2 separate regions of the Homo sapiens genome follow, and region 1 is linked to region 2. The links come from fine-mapping of genetic effects on gene expression. Tissue or cell type: whole blood. Region 2 holds a variant in brackets; the other region holds the start of a gene. All regions are shown on one strand. Distances are from middle to middle.

Region 1 (2,681 bases), 38 kb before region 2:
ACTTGATCAGCCACACTTGACATAGTTGATCACTTCTCCCTTTAAACATCTTCACATGGCTTCTGGGACCTTTTGTTTTCCTCCTACCTCCCTGGCCACTCCTTTTCAGACTCCTTTGCTGGTTTGCTCTCATTTTTCCCTAACCTTTACATGTTGATATGCCAGAGCACCTCAAACCCTTAGACCTCATCTCTGCTACTCGTGCTCCCATGGTGATCTCATCTAGTCTCTGGTTTCAAACACAGAGTGATCACTCCTGTACTTGCTGTTTCCCTTTTCCTGGAGTTCTCTCTGCCTCCTGCAGGTAGGAAGTGATTCGAGATAAGAGAGGGAGAGAACTCTTCTGGCCAGGATAGAGGGTGATTCTGAGAAGGCTTCAAGGAAGAAGTGAGCATTTGAGCACGGCTACTTGAGGAAGGCTAGGCCATGGACATTAGGGTGCAGGCAGGAGCAGAGCAAACATGCTTGTAAAAGGAACAGCAATTATTCTGTTTTATATTTATATCAGCCCATGGTGGCCCCCACAGCAGAGTGGCTTGATCTCTCACCTCCTTCAGGTCTTTGTTTAAAGATTAACTTCTCCATGAGGCCTTCTATGAACATAACCTTTAAAAACATAAATCCCCTTCCTACTGGGACTCCCCCAGTTCCCACCCTGAGACCCCCTATCTCTCTTCTCGATTTTATTTCTCTCCATAGGATGTGTATCACCACCTGACTTACTAGCTATTTACTATATATTAGTTTATTTCTTCCCCATTAGAATGTAAACTTCCTGAGGGCAGGGATTTTGTCTGTTGAGTTCAGTTCTGTATCCCCAGCACCTAAAACAGTGCCTGTCCATAACAGGCATGTTAAACATTGTTGGACAGATGAATGAGTGAATGAAAAATGGTAGTACCTTTCCTCCTCCAGTCCATCCTACACAAAGAGGCAAGATTAATTTCCCTAAATGCGTGAGCATTAGGAAGTGGGAGGGATTGGAGGAGGAAATTATAATAAGGAATCCATAAATTACTTAAGCCCATAAAACAAAGGTAGGAAACATTCAAGATAAGAGACCTCTTCTGGCCAGGATAGAGGTTGGTTCTGAGAAGGCTTCAAGGAATAGGCAGACATTTCAGCAAGGCTGCTGAGGAAGGATAGGCTGTGGAAATTAGGATGCAGGTAGGAGGATCACAGAGCAAACACTCCAAGGTGGGAAATGCAAGTGTGTGTAGAAGGAACAGCAAGTATTGTTGGGTTGGGCTGGCTTATGAAGTTGTGACGGGCTGAGGGAGAGACAGGACTGGAAAAGCACGTTGGGGTCAGGTTGCAGAGGTCCTTGACTGACAGAGAGGGGAGCTTGGTCTGTGGGGAATCTTCTGCTCTGTGTGGTCAGAGGCTGGTCTGACTCTCCGGCCTTGCCCCAGTCTTCCTATCCTTCATCCAGCCCCGGCTGGCTCGGTAAAAACGGCGCGAATCTCGCTCTCCCTGGGTAACTAGGGTCCCCACTGCCTGGCTAGTGGTGCTTTTCGCGTCTTCACTGGCACCATTAATGAATGAAGTCTGGCTCCCACCCGCGGGGAAGGGAGGAGCCTCAACCTCGGGTCCTTTGCTCTCCTGCAGCACTCCTGCCCGGGTCCCGCCTCGGGGTCGCCAGGCCCTGAACCCCAACGCCGGCATTAGTCGCGCCTGCGCACGGCCCTGTGGAGCCGCGGAGGCAAGGGACGGAGAACGGGGCGGAGGCGGAGTCAGGGCGCCCGCGCGTGGGCCCCGCCCCCTTATGTCGGGTATAAAGCCCCTCCCGCTCACAGTTTCCCTAGTCCTCGAAGGCTCGGAAGCCCGTCACCATGTCGTGCGAGTCGTCTATGGTTCTCGGGTACTGGGATATTCGTGGGGTGAGTGCCGTCTCAACGGTAGAGCCGCTCGGTCAAAGAGACTGACGCGGAGAGGGCGGGTCTCTGGGTCCGCGATCTCCAGCAGGAGCAGCTCTACGCGGGAGCCTTTTCGAGCTGCCGAGCCACGGATGTCGACCCCTGCCCAGCCTCTGGGATCGCGGGCCCTGTGGGGAGGGGCGGAGGAGACCACGCCGGAGCCGGGCCTAGGGGCCGCTTAACCACCGCCCCGGCAGGACGCAGGGACTCGGCAGCCCCGGGCCGGGGAACGTTAGCGGGCGGGGGTTGGGAATGGGTGGGAGCTGCGCAGTCGCTGAACCGCTGTCTTCCCCAGCTGGCGCACGCCATCCGCCTGCTCCTGGAGTTCACGGATACCTCTTATGAGGAGAAACGGTACACGTGCGGGGAAGGTAATGCCGCTCCGCGTGCCCGTGCAGCCAAGCTGGCCCTCCACCTGCCCTGGTCTTCTTACGCCCAGAGGGTGGTGGCGTCGCGCCAAGGCCGGGTGGGACGTTTGCCCCAATCTGGGTGAATAGAGACACATCCTTTATCTGGAACTGGGGGTTCTCTTTTTAACATAGCCCAAACCCGTCTTAATGCTTAACCAAATAGGGCTCAGAGGCTCAATGGTTATGCTTTTGGGGCCTGGGAATTTGAGGTATTGGGACCAAGTCATTTCTTTAGATCTTTTGCTCTTGTCAGGTGGGGTATTAAGGAGGTTGGGTCCCACTTAATTCCGTCTCTTACAGCTCCTGACTATGATCGAAGCCAATGGCTGGATGTGAAATTCAAGCTAGACCTGGA
Region 2 (2,681 bases):
GAAATGACAGGAGGGTGAGGGGCTGCGGTGGGGGAGGGCCTGCAGAATTACAGGTAAATTGTAGTTTGGTCTGGAGCCATTAGATGGCTCTGGAGGCAAAGCCTGCAAAGATTTGAAAAGGGAAGAGTTAGCATAGATATGGTGCAGAGCTGTCCGAGTCAGGGCCATGGGAGCTACAAGTATCAGGTCTTCATGAAAAGAAATAAGACCATCGGGGGTGACATTAAGCCAAAGTCACCGGAGTTAGATATTGAATCCTCAATATCGTTAGGTGGGGGAGGAGTAGGCGAAGGGAGAGGCTGAGCAGATAATGAAGCCCGAGTGGGAGAGGAAAGCTGTGGAAGAGGTAGAAGGTCGCCAGATTCAGAAAACTGTGGTAACTGCAGGGGGTCACGGGATTGGTATGTCGTTAGGATGGCACATACCAAGGCCCAATCACCCCAAACAGTGAAGGGAACATAATTTCCTGATGGGATCAGTTCCTGGAATTTTGCACCAACGCGATCCCATAGTTCCACATCTAATTTTCCCTTTTCAGGAAACCAAGGACAGTGTTCTTCCAACACCCTGAATAGGGTGACCATATTTTCCATGGGCACCCAAACTCCACCCTGTTTTAACAGGAGTTTAATATAGCAGAGATAAGCATAATATTTAGACTCCATGTGACCCATAGTTACCCGAGACAATACATAGAAAATTCACCAATCATCAGGGAGCCGAACAAGCGTTTCTGAGGACTGGACTGATGATCGTTTCTCCACACCTACCAAAGGGAATCAGGTTCCCACATGCACTTAGGAAAAAGAAAACCATGTTGGTGCACCAGATATTGGGGGAACCTGCCCCCAGTATTTCAATGTAGGTTCTTTCTACTTTCCATAAGTGTCGGCTGGCTGAGAAATAAAGAGAAAGAGTACAAAGAGAGGAATTTTACAGCTGGGCTGCTGGAGGTGACATCACATATCAGTGGGACCGTAATGCCCGCCCGAGCCTCAAAACCAGCAAGTTTTTATTAAGGATTGCAAAAGGGGA[G/A]GGGGTGTACGAACAGGGGGTAGGTACGAAGATCACATGCTTTAAAGGGCAAAAAGCAGAACAAAGATCACATGCTTCTGAGGAAACAGGACAAGGGCAAAATAGAACTCCTGATAAGGGTCTATGTTCAGCGGTGCATGTATTGTCTTGATAAACATCTTAAACAACAGAACACAGGGTTCAAGAGCAGAGAACCAGTCTGACCACAAATTTGCCAGGGCCAGGTTTTTCCCCACCCTAGTAAGCCTGAGGGTACTGCAGGAGACCAGGGTGTATTTCAGTCCTTATCTCAACTGCATAGGACAGACATTCATTCCCAAAGCGACCATTTATAGACCTCCCCCCAGGAATGCTTTCCTTTCCCAGAGTATTAATATTAATATTCCTTGCTAGGAAAAGAATTTAGCAATATCTTCCCTACTTGCATGTCCATTTATAGGCTCTCTGCAAGAAGAAAAATATGGCTCTATTTTGCCTGACCCTGCGGACAGTCAGACCTTATGGTTGTCTTCTCTTGTTCCCTAAATATCGCTGTTATTCTGTTCTTTTTCAAGGTGCACTGATTTCATATTGTTCAAACACACATGTTTTACAATCAATTTGTACAGTTAACACAATTATCACAGTGGTCCTGAGGTGACCTATATCCTCAGCTTAAGAAGATAACAGGATTAAGAGATTAAAGTAAGGCAGGCATAAGAAATTATAAAAGTATTAATTTGGGAACCGATAAATGTCCATATTAAAATGAAATATTTGCAATTTATGTTCCTCTGCTGCAGCTCCAGCCGGTCCCTCCATTCGGGGTCCCTGACTTCCTGCAACAAAGGCCATTTTTACTTTCTGCAGAAAGGGTACACTCGCCAGCAGTTTTACCACGAGAGTACACTGAACAAAGGAGAAAGGGTCATTTATAACTTGATGTGTCCACCCTACTGCTGTGTCCAGTTTCCACTGGCTGGAACGGGACCTCACATTCTGTATTTGTCCTGATTGGCTAGCAACTTAGAACTTTTTAAAAGAGGCAGAGGCAGAGGAGAACAAAGGAAGGGGGAACTCACTTGTGGAACGCTGAGAAAGGTAAAAACACCTTCAAATAAGGAAGAGGAACAGGCTATGACCTCATGCTTGTTTGGATCAGTATAAGCATGCCAGGGCAAGTATTTAGGCTAAATTGTGGGAGTTAAGAACATAAAGTACATTAATTTCTTTATTACAGCTAGCAGATATTTCAGAATATCAGCACCGGTCTTTGAATAAATTTTGCTTCTAAGAGAAGTTACGACTTATTCTTAATTAGATGGGGAGAAAAGTCTCTTTGAAGAGGAACCTCTACTTTACTTTTTACAGTATTAATATATTTGGTCATTCCTTTATTGAAACAACAATTGTCGAGATCCTACTACATTCCAGGCACTATGAATAAAATGATGCTTCAAGGACGCTGTATTTGCCCATCTCCAACTACATATCAGGTGGGAACTTCAGGGGAGAGATTTTGAAAATCAGGACACATCTTCGTGTTTTGGCACACTGAGAGGCAGTGGAGTGGGAGAGGGGTTGAGTGCAGGAGAGAGAAGTAGTGCCTGCTGTTGCAAGGACTCTGAGGAGCCAGGAAGAAGGCCAGGCCCCAGGTGGCTTCTTCA

The links. PIP is the estimated chance that this variant, and not a neighbour inherited with it, causes the effect.
Region 1: it holds the start of GSTM3, and the variant in region 2 is fine-mapped to the expression of GSTM3 in whole blood (INTERVAL, PIP above 0.99).

Annotation. Positions count from the first base shown.
Region 1 is chr1:109,739,439-109,742,119 of GRCh38, reverse strand. It overlaps GSTM3 (glutathione S-transferase mu 3), which reads left to right and starts at 1,082. Exons shown (of 9, transcript NM_000849.5): 1 at 1,082-1,167; 2 at 1,609-1,880; 3 at 2,212-2,287; 4 at 2,627-2,681. The coding sequence starts at 1,833. RefSeq lists a silencer at 1,643-1,872.
Region 2 is chr1:109,701,795-109,704,475 of GRCh38, reverse strand. No RefSeq gene overlaps it. Among named protein-coding and RNA genes, the nearest start is that of GSTM5, 9.1 kb to the left of the region's middle. The variant G/A (reference allele first, on the strand shown) is at 1,036.